5 separate regions of the Homo sapiens genome follow, and regions 2, 3, 4 and 5 are each reported to be linked to region 1. The links are microRNA targets in miRTarBase. Many come from high-throughput screens and were not tested one by one. Region 1 holds a microRNA gene; each other region holds the end of a gene's coding sequence.

What was found. Region 1 holds the annotated microRNA hsa-miR-4486 (GCUGGGCGAGGCUGGCA, at 1,651-1,667, shown strand). A microRNA usually pairs through its seed, bases 2 to 8, with sites in the 3' UTR of a target mRNA and lowers its output. Matches are read on the target gene's strand: a 7mer-m8 pairs with bases 2 to 8, a 7mer-A1 pairs with bases 2 to 7 and ends in A, and an 8mer does both.
Region 2: miRTarBase lists LANCL3 as a target of hsa-miR-4486. The part of its 3' UTR that is shown has no 7-base or 8-base seed match.
Region 3: the mRNA of FAM234B is a reported target of hsa-miR-4486. Seed matches in the 3' UTR shown: 7mer-m8 at 1,974-1,980.
Region 4: the mRNA of SF3A1 is a reported target of hsa-miR-4486. The part of its 3' UTR that is shown has no 7-base or 8-base seed match.
Region 5: the mRNA of ALG14 is a reported target of hsa-miR-4486. The part of its 3' UTR that is shown has no 7-base or 8-base seed match.

What each region holds. Positions count from the first base shown.
Region 1 is chr11:19,573,664-19,578,340 of GRCh38, forward strand. MIR4486 (microRNA 4486) reads left to right here and starts at 1,647; the gene lies at 1,647-1,709. It also overlaps a transcript of NAV2 not described here.
Region 2 is chrX:37,675,131-37,679,130 of GRCh38, reverse strand. It overlaps LANCL3 (LanC like family member 3), which reads right to left. Exons shown (of 5, transcript NM_001170331.2): 5 at 1-3,477. The coding sequence ends at 3,318. Among named protein-coding and RNA genes, the nearest start is that of XK, 8.7 kb to the left of the region's middle.
Region 3 is chr12:13,079,977-13,083,976 of GRCh38, reverse strand. It overlaps FAM234B (family with sequence similarity 234 member B), which reads right to left. Exons shown (of 13, transcript NM_020853.2): 12 at 3,968-4,000; 13 at 528-3,352. The coding sequence ends at 3,347. It overlaps GSG1 (germ cell associated 1), which reads left to right. Exons shown (of 7, transcript NM_001080555.4): 7 at 1-445. Among named protein-coding and RNA genes, the nearest start is that of GSG1, 22 kb to the left of the region's middle.
Region 4 is chr22:30,331,024-30,335,023 of GRCh38, reverse strand. It overlaps SF3A1 (splicing factor 3a subunit 1), which reads left to right. Exons shown (of 16, transcript NM_005877.6): 16 at 329-3,036. The coding sequence ends at 430. Among named protein-coding and RNA genes, the nearest start is that of TBC1D10A, 6.1 kb to the right of the region's middle.
Region 5 is chr1:94,979,822-94,983,821 of GRCh38, reverse strand. It overlaps ALG14 (ALG14 UDP-N-acetylglucosaminyltransferase subunit), which reads left to right. Exons shown (of 4, transcript NM_144988.4): 4 at 516-4,000. The coding sequence ends at 746. Among named protein-coding and RNA genes, the nearest start is that of CNN3, 55 kb to the right of the region's middle.

The DNA of each region.
Region 1 (4,677 bases):
TGGTCACCAGCTTATAGGTAGGTGGTAGAGCCTGAGGACTGTGCTTTCTTCTCCTGGACAGAAAGTGCTGCCTGAGCCCTCCCCTGTACCCAGCCTGTCAGGGAGGCCTCCCTGGGTGGTTTCTGAGCTGGCTGCTTTGCAGGGCTAGAAGGCCCATCCCTCCTCACCTGCCTGTGTCTGTGGGAGGCTCTTGGCAAGGGTGCTGTGTCAGGCGGCCCAAGTGCTTTCAGCACTTGGGGGTGGCAGGCTAATTTACTGGCCTGCTGAGCAGCTGGTGGATGACTGGGGATTGTCTGAAGTCTGCCTAGAACCATGGCCTGGGGCAGGGCTCCTTCCAGCAACTTCCCTGGAGAGCTGGCTGCAAGGCAGGGCCAAACCAGCCATCATGATAGTGTGAAGGGCATTTTCTGTCAAAAGAGGATGTTGGACAAGAGTTGGAAAGACTTGAGTTCTGATCCTGGCTTTGCCACTAGCTAGTTGTATAAAACTGAGCAAGTTACTGAGCATTCCTGGTTCCCACTGCTTACAAAATGGGAGCAGTAATCATGCTTACCTCCCAAACTTGTTGGGAAAATATATGCAATGTGATTAGCCCAGGTGCAAAAATAAATGTTAGATATTTTATGTTTATTATGATTTATTATTAGCTACAGCCCCCCTCATCTGTAAAATGAGAGGTTTCATTCAGTAACCACAGGCCTGGCACTATTGAGCAGTAGGTGCTCAATAAATGTTAATTCCCTTCCTAGTCCCTTATTCTTCCTTTAGCATCAGATTCCTGGCCTGTGTTGTCCCTGGGGCTCCAACACTCCTGGCCCTGGCCTATAGGTTTTCCGTGGGCTCATGGGTAATGAGCCATCTTCCCAGGGCAGTGGGGCTAAGTGCTTTGGTGGACATTTTGGAGCCATTGTATTAGAAACCCCCTCTTTTTCCTTCTTTACTTCCTTCCTTCCATCCCGTTTATTTTTGTTGATCACCTATTAAGTGCCAAACATAGTGAATACAGCTGTGAGCAAGACAAGGTTCCTGCTACCGTGGAGCATAGGTCCAGTTAGAATTAGGTAGAGAGAAAGGAAATGAACAACCATGCAAGAAAATAAACTCTTTGAAAAGTAGAAAATAGAATGGTGGAACAGAAAGTGATGAGTGTGGGGAGAATAGCAAAGCCACCTTAGATGGGGAGTCAGGGAAGACATCACAAAGGAAACAACATTTGAAGCAGGACTTGAAAGATCAGAACAGGCCAACCATACTCAATTGGGCGAAGGGGTTTCCTGCCGAGGAAATAGCACAGGTGAAGGCCCTGAGGAGGGATGGAGTTTAGCTGGTGCCCCTATACTTCCTAATGGGAAGTGCCCAGTAAAGACACAGCTTTGCACTTCCAGCCCAGGCAAAGCAATCAGCCTGCATCTTCAAGGGTTGGCTGCACTTAAGATCCGGGGTGCTGCCAGGATGTTCTTTTTGCAGTTAATTTGCTGCAACTGGCAGAGGTTAATCATGTCCACATTCCTCAAGGCCCCTGCCAAAGCTGGCCCTTCTCACAGATGCTGGTTTAAATTAGAGGGGTTCTTAGCAGCAGACTAGATTTAGCAGTGATTAACCCCAAACTGGTCCTATTGCCTTGCCCTCCTGATGGGCAGGTGGAAGCATGCTGGGCGAGGCTGGCATCTAGCACAGGCGGTAGATGCTTGCTCTTGCCATTGCAATGAGAAAGGAGCCCATCAGCTCTCCTTCTAAGCCTGGGCTCCTACAGCAGCCAGAATGCCAGTCAGACCCATCCACGGTGCTCCACGCCTGGCCCTAGCCTTGCTCTTGCCTCTTCCTTGCTGTGCACATTCCTGCTCCACTCCACACCTTTGCCTGCCTTGTCTCTGTACCCGCAGGAGAAGCTCTACTCATTTTTCCAGACTGTGCTCAGATTCTACCCCCCTATGCAAGTACCTCCTCAGACACCCCTGGGGAAATTCACCTTTTCTTCCCCATTCTTCTAGTTTCTCTTTGCACATAAGCCCTTTAAGGCATTGGTCATCATCTATATTGTGTTGGGGAGACTGAGTTCCAACTAAAGTGGGAGCTCCCGATGGCCAGGGATCCATGTCGTTCATCTCTGCAGCTACAGGACCTAGCATGAGCTTTGGCATCTCATTCATTCAGCAAATGTGTATTGAAGGTCACTGTACCAGGCACTATGAGAGGTAAGGGAATCACAGCTGTGGACAAGGTGTGTTCCCTAGTTTTAAGTTGTAGCCCATTGTAACACAGAGGGCTGAGCAGATTACGGTGTGGACTCTAATAGATGCCCAGTTGAGCCTGGGTGGTTCAGGATGGCTTTTTTAAGTCATACAGAGTGAGGAATCTGAGGCTCAAAGGAGTGAAATAACTGGCCCAAGATCTCACATCTAGTGTATGGCAGAAAAAGTGCTCAAATCCAGGCCTAAGTGCCCTTTGCACACAGCCATTTGTGGAATGGGTCCTCCTCTGTCTACACTCTCCATTCCAAGCTAGCATACTCCTTTCTGATCCTCAGCCACAAAATAAACAGGTAAGGGATCAGACCCACTTGGCCAGAGACTGGGCAGCCTTGCCGCATTCTGATGCAAAAACCTGTTTTCAAGCTACTTCAAACTTTTGATGGTTCTTGAAGTCATAGAGAGGCTTTCAGCTGAATCCAAGGCAAGCGAACAGATTTCCCATCTGCAGGGTATTTTGAAACCACTCGCTTCTTACTCATGTTTCATTTGTTTGTTTTTCTATTACAAAAATAATGCATACTAATTGTAGAGAATTTGGGGAGAAATACAAATCACCCATAATTCCACCACCCAGAAATAACCATTGTTACTATTTTGGTATATTGAGATAGTTATTTGGGGATATTACTTAGAAATTGCTATAATATATAATTGCTGTTTATTAATTTATGCAAATACATGAATATGATTAACTTGTATATATTTAGCTTGTTGTAAAACTTACACATTCCGGTGCCTGGAAATTTCAAAGATCTGCTGCTCCCAAAGAGAGCTCTTAAACCTAATTCTGTATGGTCCTTTTCACGTGAATAACATATATCTGTTTCCCTCCCTGTCTTCTCTACCAGTCTGTGGGCTTCAGAAGGGAACCCTGAGCCTTTCTCATCATTCCCTCTTCAGTACACAGTGCATAGCAGACACACAGCATTGGATGGAATGGATGTGTCTGTGGCCTGGGAAGGTGTCCTGGGGTCCTTCCATCTGGCTGTCTTAGGCTGAGTGGTGCTGGTTATATATTTCTAAGGACAGCTCCCCCTTCTCTACTCTAATTCCTTGTTCACTAAGGAATTAAAGTATCTTACAGCAGGAATTTGTCTTTTACTTCAAGGAATCCCTGGGTTCCAGGAAGTGCCTTGCACAATGAAAGCCCTCAATCCATGTTTGTAAAAGCCTGAATGACCGGAATAATGCCACTGTTTGGTAAATAGTGTGCATGGATTATCACCACAGCCCTATGACGTGGGTCTAAGCATATCTTTATTTATCACATGAGGAAACTGAGGCTCAGAGAAGTTAAGCAGCTTGTCCAACGTCCGTGTGTTGCTAACTGGCGAAAGCCAAATGTGTGGTCAGCCTCCATCAGCGTTCTATTTGCTTCCTTCATGGGGCTGCTTTTCAGATACCTGTCCTCAGATACCCACCTGGCGAAGGAACCTGTTGGCTCGTGCCCCTTCACTTTTCTAAGGCTGGGTGAAATACCACAAGGGTAGGGCCGCTGACAGGGAAGATCTGCCACGAGGGCGCAGCCATCTGTGTGAGCCACCTGGCCTCTGGGCCCTGACCCCGGCTCCTCCTGGGCCCCCTAGATGCTCAGTGTAGCCACTTCTCCCTCTGTGTCCTTCACCACCTATCTTTTTCACAGCTCTGTTTCCCCTCTTGTCAGCAGATCTCTCAACAAAATGTTTTCCATCACTGCTGCCTATTTTTAGCCCTTTTATCACAGTTATTTCCTTTGGTAAATAGCTTCCTGGCATGGGGTGAGCAGCCTAACTCGGGAGCCAGCAAGCACTGTGTGGATGGGGGTGTGGGTTGGGTGGGCATCTGGGGTGAGAGGGAAGAATTGAGGAGCCATGGACCAGGCCCCACTATTGGGGGCTGCTTTCTGTTCCAATGGTGGCAGCAGCAGCAGGAGCAAGATGCTCATTCATTCCATTTCAATTTGTTAAAACCATTCTTTGAGAAGGCAGCATGTGCACAGGCCTCGGAAGCAGACAATCAGCGACAGGCGCCCAAAATAGACTCAAAATCAGCAGCATTTTGTTTTGCTCAAGGCTTTTCATGCCTGCAAGGGGAGGAAAGAAAGGATCCAGAGCATTTTCTGCTTCCAAACACACATCTATTTTACAATAAGACAAATGACTCGTATTCCTCCTATTAAATCCAGCAGCGTCCCCTCCCCACCACCCCTTCTCTGAAGCCCTCGCCAGCATTTCCTTTTGTGGCTGTAAGAGAAGCAAATAGCAGTTCATGCATCTCCAGTGCAGAGTGCCTCTGCCTCCTCCGGCTCTGCCTGCGAGCTGGGCTTTTACAAGCTGAGATTTTCATAAATTAACGCTGCGCGTGCTGCTGTAGCTGCTGTAATGGCTTTCCAGAAGGTGCTGTGAGCCAGGCCCTGCTGGAGAGAAATGAGCCAGTGATTTGCTAG
Region 2 (4,000 bases), not on the chromosome of region 1:
ATAACAACCCTGTGAAGTAGACAGGGTGATTATTATTATTACTACAGTGGCCCCTAAAAGTGGCAGAGCAAGACTTTGAGATTTCCAGCACAGGGCTCTTTGCACCACTAATGGTTTTCCTTTTAATTGTGTGTTCATTTAACATGGCTAGAAATCACAAACCCATTTGTTTCATTGAAGTTACTGAGGTTCGCTCTTTCAAATTTGAAACAATTTCAGTATTACCATGATTAAAATCTTAATATGTCAAAAAAGTTAAAGAAATAAGCTGCCACTGGAAGAGATGCAATTTAGCACAGACCAAGAAAATGACTGTTTCTCAAGTTATCAGTAAGCAAATACTGTTATCTTAATAGCATAGTCAACTACCTAAAGAAGCACAGGGAAATATACTCTAGCAAACCCCTGTTCTACTCAGTTATCAAGTTACAAGTGGAAGTAAAAGACTACAAACTGATGACTGAAACAGGCTTGGGCAAAATAAAAATGTATAATATTCTGGGGTGTGTGTGGAAGAGATGGTATGTAATTACATTAATGAAACAAAATACACAGAGTTGTAATGGTTTCCAAAATGTCTTGCTATCAAAGCATAATGCAGTCTCCCCATTATTGAGAGACTATTTCAATGTATCCTCAAACATTTCCACTATTACCTTCAGGGTTTATAATTGCTCATGCTGTATATAGTAAATAATATTAAAGTTATACTAGTGGTGGTGAAAATGCCCCTGTAGCCTTTAAGAGACAACAGCCTTAAGTACTACATTAAAAATGCTACCACAGAGAAGGGGGGCAAGTTGGATAATTAAATAAGAAGTAACATGCCACACTTTCCTACAGCAAAATGTAAGAATCGTTTTCCCCTTCTTGGAAAAATAATATAGAAGAGGACCTTCCAAAATCTATAATTCTTTCAGGAAAATGAAAAGTTTCATCAACATGTTTAAGGGCTAAACAAGCCTATTGTTGTTTCTAATTTACCGAAATGTCATTTCATAAAGACAATACTCAAACATGGTCTTTGCTTAGATTTGACACACAAATCAAAATGGTTAGCACATCATCATCAGACCTATCAGAACTTAAAAGGGCAGATAGGCCTGAAAGTGGTCTTGTTTTTCTGAAGTTACTAGAAATGGAACTGATATGATAATGAACTAGAGTATCAGTTCTGAGTGCTTTAGGTTTCAGGTCTCAAGGATGAATTGTGAAAGGAACAGCAAATGGAAACAGAAGGTAGCTTTGAGGGAAAGTTTATTTTGTTCACTATTGTATCCCCAGATTCTAGTCTAGAATACTGAATAAATAAACTTAGAAAGTGAAACCCTGGGTTTGAATCCTGGTTTTGTCCTTTTCTAGCTGTAAGACTTTGGAGCATTTACCAAACACATCTTGAGGGGTTCTTGGACGATAAAAACTGCATGTGTTCCATAAAGCTCTGTATATAGGATGGTTATTATATTCAGCCTATATGAAAGAACTTCTGGACCCAATGTGGGGAGTCATCTGAAAGCTGCTATTTATGTGGTATCACCCCAAACTGAGCATTTTCACTGATGAACAACTGAGGCCAATTTGATATGGTTGTATCTGAGGATGTAAAAATGAAACAGGAAGCTGAAAAGATGTATGCATTTCAAAATCATTTTGTCCTACTTTATTGCAATGAGTGCAAACACACACAGTCATAAAATACACAAAGATAGTTGTTACCTTTCTTTGGTCAGATTCTTTGAGAATGTTATGAATGCTAGAGATCCTTGTCCCCTCAAAATGAGCACACACACACACAAACAAACTGGTCCATACACATACACACACCAACATACTTGTAGGTTTGCTTTTTAGGCAACAGAGCATTCCCTAACTCGTTCCAAAGTCTATGATTCAAGTTAAGAATTACTGAAATAAAGAATAAGTATTTGGATTTACATGGGAATAGATATGGAATACACACCATACACACACACACACACACACACACACACATAATATATCCAAATATTTAATGACTATTTAAATAAGTCTTATACAGTACACAATTTCCTACTCAATCTGATATATGCAATTGCCACTGACAAAATTCTAGGAAAAGGATCAACTTATGCTCTGCATAATGAAGTGACAGATGCTCCTACAGTGTTCTGCAAACCACTATTTACTTGAAGCAGTTTCACAACTTCTATGTGTTTACAGCAGGGTTGAATTTGATATGACAACTTGGCTCAATGAGTATTACAGCCAATTTCTAGTGGACCCTGTATCTTGGAAGGTAAGGTAACCAACCACAGAATTCACTCATCTCTTCATTTAATAGTATAAAATGGAGCAAAATTATTTCCACAATCACTGGTGACTTCCTCAGCCTGTCTGCCTGTCCCAAACAAAGGCAGAAATGACACGTCTTTGTAGTGGTTCCCCTGATCTTTGAAATTAGTGATATTTACCAAGAGCATATTTTATAGTTCAGCTAATAGCTCCATCAAGATTATGTACATAAAGGCATTTTTAAAATTACTAACAATAGACAATACACAGTTCACACTTCCTATGGAGAAAAACACTTTACAGCAACACTTGCTATAGTATAAGTTTACTAGCTTATAAATTTTGCTATTCTAATTGAGCTTTGAGGAAAAAAAAGGAACCAGGAAAAGAGATGTTCTAGGGCCTAAGGAAACTTCAAATTTTAGTATCTGAACTACGCTATGATATGATTTCTTTAAATTGCCCAGGGTAATGAAAAAAATAGAGATTCATATGCAAATATCTTTGCTCAGTAAAAACCATAAATTTCAATAAGTATAAGCACAGGACAACCAAGAGTTTATTTTTATACTTCAGCAACCTGACAATCCATTCCTCATAGCAGTTTTCAGCTGGGCAATTATTTTAATTTTTTATTGTCTTTATTTCTGAATTTAAGGGTAGAGGGCACACACAAATGGTCAAATTCTCATTCAGATTGCAAAGGTATTAGTGTATTTTTTGTCATAGTCTACACTTGCAGTTTGGTTTTCTATGTCATAACTGAAAAACAGATCATTTCTCTTTCCCCTTTTCCTATGATCCCTTGTTTCACATCTATTCCCTGACACATTAAATCTCTGCAGTTTTAAGATGAATTGTGGTATCTTTATTTTGCAGATCCTTTCTCAAATCTGGCATCATGTTGCCTTCACCTGCCTGATTCCTTCCTTCTGATGGCAATGTTAAGGCTCATGGTTGCGATACCATTGAATGTGGCTTATGTGGAAACTGCCTCGGCTTGGCTCAGGGGATCTCTGCAGGGCCACAGTGGAAGATAGAGCCTTCTAAACAAAGACGCTGAAGAGTGGGAATTCAGCCTGATTGGGCTGCAGCAGGTCAATCAGAAAGCACACTGTCCCAGAGAAGCCTTCATACAAGCTGTATATACTTTCAAGGACCCGAGAACCGGCCTTGAATTCCTCGGTAAATAAGAATTGAGCAAACCTAAGAGAAGAAGAAAATATGAACAGTTTAACATGAGTGTTTCCATATTATGGACCTTGGGTTGCTTCTTCCTCTTCTATTAAAGTTTTAGCATAATTTTCTTTCCAGAATTATATAATTAAGTATTTTAAGAAACACATTTTCTCTGTTAAAGAAGAAGATCCATTATATAACTGTGTATGTTTCACAACAAATTATGCTGGCAAGCAAATCCAACTATTCTTAGAGTTTGCAAAGCAAAGCAGTTTGGAATTTTCAAGGATCTCATTCTTTCTGTCATCCAGTAATTAAAGTAAAAAAAGACAGACAAATTGCTCTACTTTTATTTATCTTGAAAAGAAGCAAAGTGATACGTGACTGTTCCTTTAAAAAAGTAAATATGCTGTGTTTCTGCAGACATTACCTCTAAGCTGGGTTTTTGTTTATATATGACAAAAAGCAGAGACTGTAAAAATAAATGGGCAAGATTTTATACAATCTGTGCTGTGAGCAAACAAGGGAATAAGATGAATAGGAAAAGGCA
Region 3 (4,000 bases), not on the chromosome of region 1:
TTTATAATAGCAAAGACTTGGAACCAACCCAAATGTCCATCAGTGATAGACTGGATTAAGAAAATGTGGCACATATACACCATGGAATACTATGCAGCCATAAAGAAGGATGAGTTTATGCCCTTTGTAGGGACATGGATGAAGCTGGAAACCATCATTCTGAGCAAACTATCGCAAGGATAGAAAACCAAACACTGCATATTCTCACTCACAGGTGGGAATTGAACAATAAAAACACTTGGACACAGGGTGGGGAACATCACACACCGGGCCTGTCATGGGGTGGGGGGAGGGGGGAGGGATAGCATTAGGAGATATACTAACGTAAATGACGAGTTAATGGGTGCAGCACACCAACATGGCACATGTATACATATGTAACAAATCTGCACGTTGTGCACATGTACCCTAGAACTTAAAAAAAAAAAAAAAAGAATGCCACCCATCTACTTGCCCGTTCTCTTTTCCATATGGGGAAACAAACCATCCTTGATGACTAAGACGAATGAGAATGGCACACAAGTGTATTCCTGTAGAGTATTTATTTATTTACTCTATAACAGTTCACATTTTAAATAGTGCTTCCTGACAATATACCAGCTGGCTCTTCTTTAATAGGGCAATAAGGATAGCAATTCACATTCAGGGGATTAGTTTCACCATACCACACATTTGGGGGATGGCAAAAACGGGGTCTAAGGAAAAGGGAGGGTGTTTAAGGGAAAGAGGAGGGTAAGACCCTTGCATTTGTAGAAGTCATTACTATTTCTCAGTAGTGGTCATATTGGCTTTGCCGGCAACCTCAGGATGGGATTAGAGAAAGAAAGGAGCATGTCCTATCTTAGACACCTGGGTGGGTGGCTGCCTGCAAGGAGAAGGAGGCTTAGGGACACATTTCACAAGAAACCAGCACCCACATTGGTCAGATGAAGCTTCCTCAATTTTCAGCCACCACTTACACCTTTCTGTACCGGCTGCAAGAGGAAGAAGAAAACTAAACTTATAATGTTGTTTGGCAAGGAGAGATTCAAACTTACCATAGTCAAAAGAATCTATGTTAAGTTAGTTTGCAAATACACCATGAAGAATTCAGGTACATTAAGTTTCTCTAGCTTCCTCTTATCTTTCTGGGATTTGCCCTGCATAAACACAGTCCTCTGCCCAAACAATCCCACCAAAACAGGTCCTCAGAAAACAACTTCATGTTTCACTCCTGCGCAGAGTGGCTGGCTTCCCAGAAAGCCTTAACATAACAGAGAACCAGGTTATGCCCGGACAGCTCAGCCAAACCACAGGACCACCACCCAAGTTTTGGGTATTCAGCTGCCTATAAATTAATTCTTCAAATTCTATACTAAACCAAATTAGGTCCCAGGCCCTTAAACTCAAGTAGATTCAAATCCCAGAAATTATCTGGAATCATTCCCATACTCTAGAAGTATCTTCTTATTCCTCCAAAGTCAAGCTGGACCCACAGATGACTTCCAAACTGTTGAAACAAAATTTGCCTTCAGGATCTTAAGGCAGAGGCACCCAGAAACCTGATAAGGCCAATCTACAGGCCAGGCAACATGCATGCTTGGATCTACTGCTACCAACCTCCTGTTAGGTCATAATGCCTGTCAGTGGGTAATTAACAGAGATCCCTTTGAATCTGGACTTCATAATTTTCTAGAATCCTTTTACTAACACAAGCTAAAAGATACAAGCCCAGCCGGGCATGGTGGCTCACGCCTGTAATCCCAGCACTTTGGGAGGCAGAAGCAGGTGGATTATCTGAGGTCAGGAGTTCGTGACCAGCCTGGCCAACATGGTGAAACCCCGTCTCTACTAAAAATACAAAAAAAAAAATTAGCCAGGCATGGTAGCGGGCACCTGTAGTCCCAGCTACTTGGGAGGCTAAGGCTGGAGAATCGCTTGAACCCAGGAGGCGAAGGTTGCAGTGAGCCGAGATTGTGCCACTGCACTCCAGCCTGGGCGACAAGAGCAAAACTCTGTCTCAAAAAAAAAAAAAAAAAAAAAAAAAAGATACAAGCCCAGGTAAAGAGAGAACCTGAGGTGCACTCAGGGATGACCTATCAAGGTTATTCAAGAAGCAGTTTTCCATCCGCTAACATTGAATTTTCTGCTATATAAACAATGACCTAAAAGTTTAGAGGAGAACTTAATTGAAGTAGCAGATTTATACAGAAGAAGGGAGAAGTAAGCACTGGAGATAATTCTAAATAACTTAACCATTTATAAAAGTTATAGTATTTACAGAAGAATTTTCCCAAAATACAATGCTTCAAAGGCTCTACAGGAAAGAAGAGATGCAGGACAAAATGGTTGCATCCTGGACTCAAGTAGCAGAAGAAAAAGTCCAGAAACATATCCCTGAATAGAAGAGAAAACAGAGTGAGGGGAGCTAAGGAGGGTGCCCTATAGAAAAAGATGCAGAGAAGACATACAGCAGGATAAGGACATCAAAGGCTCCTGACTTCCAGTTCTCCTCTAAGTTGAAGACAGCATGCAAACATACACTTCTGATGTCGCCACAGAAAAAAGATCATGACTGGCAGAACCATCAGAGCCACATATAACACAACATGTGGACTTGGTCAGAGATGGGTCACTGAGACTACATCCTCTTGCTCCCCTTGTGATAGGAATATAGTTATTCTTGTGGTCACTTAATAGACATGGATGGAAAATCTAAGGAAATAGGATATAAAACAAGAGAGATGAAAATGCTTGGATGGCTAACTCAGTCTTCCACTATAAATCTTTCTCATTCTGTCTACAATTTGGAAGTAGCCAAGGTACAGGTGGGAAAGAATAAGGAGAGAAATAAGTGGCCCTCAACATCAGAGGTAGGGCATCTGGAAGTCTCAAAATGACCAAACAAACCAGATATATTTCAGAAGGACAAGAAACTGGATCCCTGAAGCTTAGGACATACCTGGAAAATAACTTCACCACAACACTAAAATATACACACACACAGCACAATGTACAACAAAATGTTTCCTAGTCATAGACTTCACTGGCTTTCCCAGCAAGACTTCATAAATTAGACATACCAAAAAAATTAAATACTTAAGAGATTCACATTTCCAAACGATCCACGCAGAGTTCCTAGAGGGGATTAATGCAGGGACTGAAAAGGTAGGTAAGATGCCCCAGCCAAATAGATCATGCTGCCGTCAAAGACTCCAACATGCCTTCCCAAGCCTTTGCAACCATCAGGGAGGTGGTAAATGAGGACGAAGAAGTCTTCTCTCCATAGAACTGATTTTACAGTGACAGGAGAGTAGAGAGGGTATCCACTCTGTTCACTTCTTCTGCAACTGAAGATTCCATCAGATTAGATCTATGGAAAAAGAGTTATCGTGACTTTATTGTTTTTCATGGTAGAGATGTTCAAAGAAAAGCAGGAAAACTAAAGGTCAGAATATTTCTCTATTTTCCCGTCCTTTTCTTTAGCTCCAATAGTCTGTAAACATTTCCTCCTTCCAGAAAGGCCCAGAAACTTTGTTATTTTCCATGATAAGCTTTTGAACTTTGCACTAGACTATAATATTTCTTGGGAGTGGGGATGGGGAGGGAACATTAGCATTTTGAGCAAGATGATTCTTTGTAGTATGTAACTGCTACAAGCCCTGCATGATGTTAGCATCACTAGCCCCAACCCAGAAAATACCAGTCGTAGCCACCCCTGTCAGTCATTGGGACAATAAAAACCACGACCCCACATTGTCAAATGTCCCCTAAGGAAGATGCTATTATTTCCAGCTGAAAACAATTGAGAATCATTTCTTCATGGTCAGAAGGCATCCATAGGAAACAGTGTTGGTCCAAAACAACTGTCTTGATACACATCTACTCAAGAAAGTTCCCCATTCTGCCTACTTTCTAAAGACAAAGCTGGAATTGGTAGTATTTGTCCTAAACCCTCAAGAGGAACAATATTTCTGCAGCCACTCACCTCGTAGGGAGCTTCAACAAACTTTATCCTAGA
Region 4 (4,000 bases), not on the chromosome of region 1:
TCTCTATCCATTGAGGCTGTTGGGCTAAGTGATCCCTAAAGGTCTTGTGATTTCAGAGTCAGAGCTCCATGGAGTTGGTGAGGGGCCAACTTTTTGGGGAGTTGAGCTTTTGAGTCAAATGTTGACAAAGGGGAGGAGCGTAATTGGTGGGAAGAAAGGAAACAGTGGGAGGAATGAGAGGCCTCCAGTCCCCAACACCCTACCTTCTCACAAGCTCCTGTATTTGCTAAGTCCAGAGCGCAAACAGACCAAGTGCACAGTTGTAAGGTTGCAGCGGTATCCCCAAGGCTGGGTTGCCCCATGCTAAGGCACGCTGTCTGTTTTCCAGGGTATCTTCATCAAAGATTCCAACTCACTGGCTTACTACAACATGGCCAATGGCGCAGTCATCCACCTGGCCCTCAAGGAGAGAGGCGGGAGGAAGAAGTAGACAAGAGGAACCTGCTGTCAAGTCCCTGCCATTTTGCCTCTCCTGTCTCCCACCCCCTGCCCCAGACCCAGGAGCCCCCCTGAGGCTTTGCCTTGCCTGCATATTTGTTTCGCTCTTACTCAGTTTGGGAATTCAAATTGTCCTGCAGAGGTTCATTCCCCTGACCCTTTCCCCACATTGGTAAGAGTAGCTGGGTTTTCTAAGCCACTCTCTGGAATCTCTTTGTGTTAGGGTCTCGATTTGAGGACATTCATTTCTTCAGCAGCCCATTAGCAACTGAGAGCCCAGGGATGTCCTACAGGATAGTTTCATAGTGACAGGTGGCACTTGGCTAATAGAATATGGCTGATATTGTCATTAATCATTTTGTACCTTGACATGGGTTGTCTAATAAAACTCGGACCCTTCTTGTGAAATCAGTTAAATAAGACTTGTCTCGGTCACCTGTGCCCTGTCCAGACTCGAGGCAGTGGTAACACTGCACAGTGCTATGTGGCTTCTCTTTGAGGATTTTTGGGTTTTGTAACTAAATTCTTGCTGCCCTCATACTTTTTATGTATTAGAATCATATTCGTATTGCCCTTTTAAAACATTGGGATCCTCCAAAGGCCTGCCCCATGTATTTAACAGTAATACAGGAAGCATGGCAGGCACCATGCAAACCAAGGATGGATGGTGCAGTCCCTGTGTCAGTGGGCGGTGGTTTCCTGCTGGCCTGGAATCACTCATCACCTGATTGATTGGCTCTGTGGTCCTGGGCAGGTGCCTCATAGGTGTGTGGATATGATGACGTTTCTTTAAAATGTATGTATTTAACAAATACTTAATTGTATTAAGGTCATGTACCAAGGATTTGATAAAGTTTAAATAATTTACTCTCTACTTTTATCCATTTTATCCATTTTAACTCATGTAATCCTCATGTGAGTATTCCTGTTTAACACTTGAGTAAACTGAGGCACAGAGAACATAAGTTGCATGCCATAGTCACACACTGTGAAAGTGAAAAGAGAATGTGTGCAAAACACGTCACAGTCCTGGTTTCTGAGTAAAGGCAGGCTGTTATCTTTAGAATCAAGCTATCACAGGGAGATAGGCAATGCTGTGGGTGTTGGAGGAAGGTGAGAGCCTGTTGCTAACAATTTCCTGGTTTTAAAGCTAAGGCTGATTTTATTGGGAAGATCTCACATGTGTGTGGCCCCTGAGAGTTCCCAGTGCCTTTTATTTGCAGTCCTTCCATTTGGACCTCCTAGCTGCCCCATCAGGTCATCTCCAGGGCTCAGAGGGGTGAGACCATTTCCCAAGGTCACAGAACCAGCTCTCTAGTCACCACCCTGCCTCTCCCTCTCACCCAGAGTCAGTACCAGTTTTATGGCTTTATTACAAACTGCTGGGTCCCTCCCATTTTCAACTTGATTGATGGGATGTCATCCCTTATCCTGTCTGACATTTGCCTCTGGCCTGGTTGCTAGAAGTTTGCCCCAGGGGCAAGAGTTGAAATTTGGCTTCCTGAGGTGGGCTTTGTGGTTTGCGTCCCTAAAGTGAGCCCACTACTGGTTGCTTGTCCATGGCCAACACCAGAAATCCCCTGAGCACTACCTGGGTCTCATTCCAAGAAGGAAGAGGGTCAGGAGACCTGGGGAGTCTCATATTCCAAGTTCTTCTTTCTTTCTGGGAGCAGTGGGCAGTTCATGGTGTTAGGGCACTCACCCCCACAGACTGGCAAACCCTGCAGGACTTCCGTGGCTGAGGCTGTGACCGGAGGCCAGGAATGCCGTTGGGTGGATTGTGAGTGAATGGGCCCTTTGAGCTGCCCTCTAGAGAGCAAATCCAGTTTCCTGGAGCTCCTGAATGAATATCTGTACTGGCTCGCTCAGATGCAGAAGCTCCATTGACCATGAGGCCTTGTGAACATCAGTGGCCACAGGCCCAGTGTGCTGCTTGGCACTGCACTAGTTTAGGACCTGCAGCATGTAGGTAGCGTCCTAGTGTTTATAATACAAAGCTGCTCTGCACAGCTTTTCTGATTCTTCTTGCAATCTCCTGAGGATTATCTGCCCCATTTTTAAAACGAGGTGGAATACCCAAGGTCATGTAGCCAGTGAGTGCTCTGGAAAGCCAAAGCAGCTCATCCCTTCCTGGGGACCACACTGCTCTGCTCCACCAGACCACACTATGAAATAGGAATAAGTGCTCCTGTTGCAGGACTGCTGGGAAAACAGGTGGTGTGGGACTTAAGTCACCATAATTTTGAAGACTTGCATGCAGAGGGCTCCAGGAATTGTAGACATTAAGGAATTTCACTTTCAGTTCTACCCACTACTTAAGTACTTGTCATGTACTCTTAGAGGAGGCCAGTAATGATCAGAACCATTTTACTTTAAAATTAATAATATTGTATTAGAGAATATATTAAATGGTTATATTGGGTTATGTTAGGATATATACTTGAATGGAAATACATGTACTATTAGCAATCATATTTCATTTATCCCTGTAATTAGACAAGAAAGCATAATATAGCTCTACTCATGGGTACACATACCAGTGTATAAGATTTTTAGAAGTTTACTTTTTAAAAATAAAAGCAAAATGTAAGATCTTAAGAGTTATGATCATTAACTCTACCAGATATGGAGATTTGCTGTTAACTATTCTGTATTGTTACATTTTTTTAATTCTGCATTGTTGCCAGGTGTAGTGGCTCACACCTGTAATCCCAGCACTTTGGGAGGCCGAGGCGGGCGGATCACCTGAGGTCGCGAGTTCAAGACCAGCCTGACCAACATGGAGAAACCCTGTCTCTACTAAAAATACAAAATTAGCCGGGCATGGTGGCACATGCCTGTAATCCCAGCTACTTGGGAGGCTGAGGCAGGAGGATCGCTTGAACCCAGGAGGTGGAGGTTGTGGTGAGCTGAGATAGCACCATTGCACTCCAGCCTGGGCAACAAGATTGAAACTCTGTCTAAAAAAAAAAAAAAAGGCTGCATTGTTATATAAAAGAACACTGCCTGGTGAGTTCCCTGACACCATGCCCTGACACTGCTCCCAGCATGTAAGTGAACAATTCTAGGTACCCCTGGACACTACAGTCCATGAAGCAGGACAAGATAAACTCCTGCCAGGCACAGTGACACACCTGTAGTTCCAGCTGCTTGGGAGGTTGAGGTAAGAGGATTGCTTGAGCCAGGAAGTTCAAAGTCAGCTTAGACAACATAGTGAGAACTCATCTCTAAAAAAGTTTTTTTAAATTAAAATTAAAATAGATCATTACAGAGAATACTGTTATAACAGGTGGCAGGTGCCTGTAATCCCAGCTACTTGGGAGGCTGAGGCAGGAGAATCTCTTGAACCCGGGAGGTGGAGGTTGCAGTGAGCCAGGATCACACCACTGCACTCCAGCCTGGGCAACAGAGCAAGACTCCGTCTCAAAAAAAAAAAAAAAAAAAAAAAGGGCATCTGGACTTTTGCTCATGGCCAGTGCTCACAGGTTTCCTGAGCACATGCCAACTGCACATTCCAGGATCCAGGAGAGGGGCCTATGTGAGATCCTCAAGCCCAGCTGTT
Region 5 (4,000 bases), not on the chromosome of region 1:
TGCAGTGAGCCGAGATCACGCCACTGCACTCCAGCCTGGACAACAGAGCGAGACTCCATCTCAAAAAAAAAAAAATCTTCATAGTCAATTAAAGATATTTTCTCCCAAATCAAGAATAAGTTGGTACATTAAAGAAAACAGTGAATCTCAGTTGATTTTGTTTTCTGTATTTTTATGTGACATTCAAGGTCCACAGAGCAGTCAGAGAAGAGCAACACATGCCTGTCCGATGAGTGCTGACTGAGCACCAGGAACTGTGCTAGAAGTTAGAAGTTAAGTGATTTGCCCTGAGTCACACAGTTGGTAAGCAAGAGAGCCAAGACAACACAGCTCTGCCTGGCTCCAAAGTGCATGGGCTTAAACATGCGCTGTTTGCTGCATCCTGGTTCTTGACAGAGAAGGACTTATTAGAATCATAAGCAGATCCCCTCTGAAATCAGGCTGTTCTTAATGCAAAATGCCTCCCTTAGATTATTATTCTGTATTTTCATTTGACCTTCAACTTTTTCTTTCAGGTGTTGTGTAACGGACCAGGAACATGTGTTCCTATCTGTGTATCTGCCCTTCTCCTTGGGATACTAGGAATAAAGAAAGTGATCATTGTCTACGTTGAAAGCATCTGCCGTGTAGAAACGTTATCCATGTCCGGAAAGATTCTGTTTCATCTCTCAGATTACTTCATTGTTCAGTGGCCGGCTCTGAAAGAAAAGTATCCCAAATCGGTGTACCTTGGGCGAATTGTTTGACAAATGGCAACTGACTTCTTTAGAATTTTGCAGTTAACAGTAGTATGTACTCAAATTGGGGGGAAAAAAACCCTACATGTTTCTTGTAAAGGCGTCTGACAGTCCTGAGAATTATTGATGGTAAGGAATAAAAAATGTACAGATGACTCAGTGAAGAAACTGAGGCTTCTCTTATGAAACAAACATTGATAAACGTAACTACTAAATGTTTATGCCTCTGTAAACCAAATTTCTTTTCTAGATAAAAATATGTATTACTACCTGCAAATTTTCTTCTGGCTGTTTTAGTAGTATTTTTTTTACAGAACTAAATATAGAGTTTGTATGATTAGTAATATTTCCTGTCCTACAGCTTTTTTTTTTTTTTTTTTTTTTTGTAAAGTATTCTGCATTGTAAAAGAAGAGAGAAAAAAAGTATTTCTGAGTTTTGGTTCAGATACAAAAGGCTTTATTTCCTGTATGGAAACAGTGATGTCCCCAGTGAATCCTTTCAGCATAAAGGAAGCAGTTATATTAAATTGGCTTCATGACAATTTGCACTCCACAAGCCTCCAGAACCTTGAGCATAAACCAGTATCATTTTTTGTACTTCAGTCTTGCTTTTTGAGTAGTTGGCCTTAATACAGAGTATCTTTTAAAATCTCTTGTTTAGGCCGGCATGACGGCTCACACCTGTAATCCCAGCACCTTGGGAGGCTAAGGCGGGTGGATCACTGGAGGTCAGGAGTTTGACACCAGCCTGACCAACATGGTGAAACCTTGTCTCTACTAAAAATACAAAAATTAGTCAGGCGTGGTGGCACATGCCTGTAATCCCAGCTACTCGGGAGGCTGAGGCAGGAGAATCGCTTGAACCCGGGAGGCAGAGGCTGCAGTGAGCCGAGATTGCACCATTGCACTCCATCCAGCCTGGGTGACAAGAGTGAAACTTCGTCTCAAAAAAAAAAAAAAAAAACAAAACTCAATGATGTAGGGACTGTTATTATTCCCATTTTACAGATGACTTGTCCAAGATCACATGAGTAGTAAGTAGCAAAGCCAGAATTCAAGTTCAGGTAAACCTGACTTCTTAGTGGGGCCAGTTTCACGGGTGTGTGGCCTGTGCAGTCACACAGAGTTCTGCACTGAAGAGGGCCTCCACTTGGTTTAATGTTCTGCTGTGACTCTCTTGAACTTCTGAATATTTTTTTAAACAATGAACTTATATTTTAGACCCTCTGAATTCTTTCGCTGGTCCTGCTTGAGACTGTGTTTCTAGTGGTGCCATGTCTACTGGAATAGAAGTACAATAGTTAGTGCAGTGCCTGGCCCAGGAGCTCCTCAAAAACAGGAATTCCATTTCCTTCCCTCTAACCTCTGCTTCTTTAACAAAGCAGCCAAAAAAAAAAAAAACAAAACAAAATAAAAAACAGAAAAGAGAAGATTCTCTCCTGTAGTATATATAGGTTTTTTCCTCTTAAATCTTTTGCTTTATAAGTATGATATAAATCTAATAAATAGTGATTAGTGAAGTGATTGAATTTTTGTGAAAAGAGACATGATTATCCACGATCATGTAAGATTAAAATCCTGAGGCTGATCCAGCCTTTTTTCTTTTTTTTTTTTTTAAAAAAAAAAAGCAAAAAAAACAAAAAAACTGTCTTCTCTGAATCATGTAACAGGCGCATCTGTCAGCCGGACATCTTCCTAGGTTTTTGGCTGGAGAAATGTGTAGCCGAAGGTGTCTCAGAATGGTGAGAACACTTTGCTGTCTGGATTTAGTGGGCCTGGGGCAGCCAAATGATAGTTCATTGTGCTTTGATTTTAATCCTCAAATCTCAGTCACTGGTTGCTTCCCTGGAGTATCAGAGCGTATTAGTATCATACAACCAGGGGCTGAGGTGAAATAAGCCTTGACTGTTCTAGAAAGAAAGTGATTTTTTCAGGGACAACAGCATCTGCATTTTATTGCTGTTTAAGGCTTTCTCTGCTCTGTACTTTGTTCCCTGAGTGGCACTAGGTAAATGAATGGTAAGGGAAAGTGAACTGCGTTTAGTGAATGCCTCTCTGTGCTGTGGGGCAGCTTCCCTGGGCCCCCACAGGTAATCCTGCTGCAGAGGCTTCTGTCAGGTCAGAGCTTAACAAAGATCAGACCAGAGAGAATTGTAGAAAAGATGCTATAATTTTTTCCAGAAACATATGTCCCAGATGTTTTGCAGAGCCTTAACTTAAGACAGTGGTTAGCCTGGAATGTCAGAGAAAGAATGTGTATGTGTTATATCACCAAAAGTTTAGAAATGTTATATCTTTCATAGGTTCAGGCTGCTGTGTACTCATTCAGAGCCAGGCTGAGACATGTGTTATTGCATCTTCCTGATCATTCAGATTACTCTGGTAAACAAGTGCATGCTCTGCTGTGTGTTACTGTTATGGCTAATTTGAGTCCTCAAGGTCCCATTAGCAGAGGGGGCTGGTGGCACAATTTCCCTGCTGTGCATTTCTGTGACATTCAGAAAGATAGTGCGCCAGTCCCAACTCAAACTGAAGAAGATGAGTAGCTAGCTTGTCCCTTCCAGTTTCTCTTAGAACACTCTGAATGCAACTTTTACTGTAGGAGACTGTTCATGAAAAAATTAATTGAATCAGTCTTCAAATGAGAGGCAGGGAAACCACACATCCTGCCCACACCTACTTCCCTGGAAGATTTCTATCTACAGTCCAGCTATCCTAAAAGGTCTCAGTAGCTTGCCAGGTCAGAATGTCTAACTGTTTCAAAAAGGATGCCCAAAAATCATGACAGGAAACTTTAGCCTGGAACGAAGAGTGCTATGAAACCGTGTCAACAAGAGGAGTGGTGACAATTGTGAGTTGAATAGCAAGATGTCCTTGCTAGGAAGGAGATGACCCAAGCTTCCCCTTATAAAAGCAACTTGGAACACATCATTCTACCTTTCAAAGATACATGGTAAGTTAAAATTGAGAAACGTACCCCTTTACTATACAGTTCCTTGGGTTGAATGAGTGCTTTTTTTTTTTTCTGAAAAGCCCCATCCCCCAAAAGGCATTTGATAGCAATGTATTAAGCACCTTTTACCAACAATAAGAACATCATTGTAAGTGTTAAAGAAAATTGTCCTTCTCCCTACAGGTCAGCGTTTGAGCCTCACGGGGTTTCTTCCCATGACTTCAGCCCTGGCGCACAATGAGCAGACACCCAAATCTTGTCCGCCTTCAACATTCTTTTGTTAGGGCCCATCCCTCTAGCACTCTAAAAA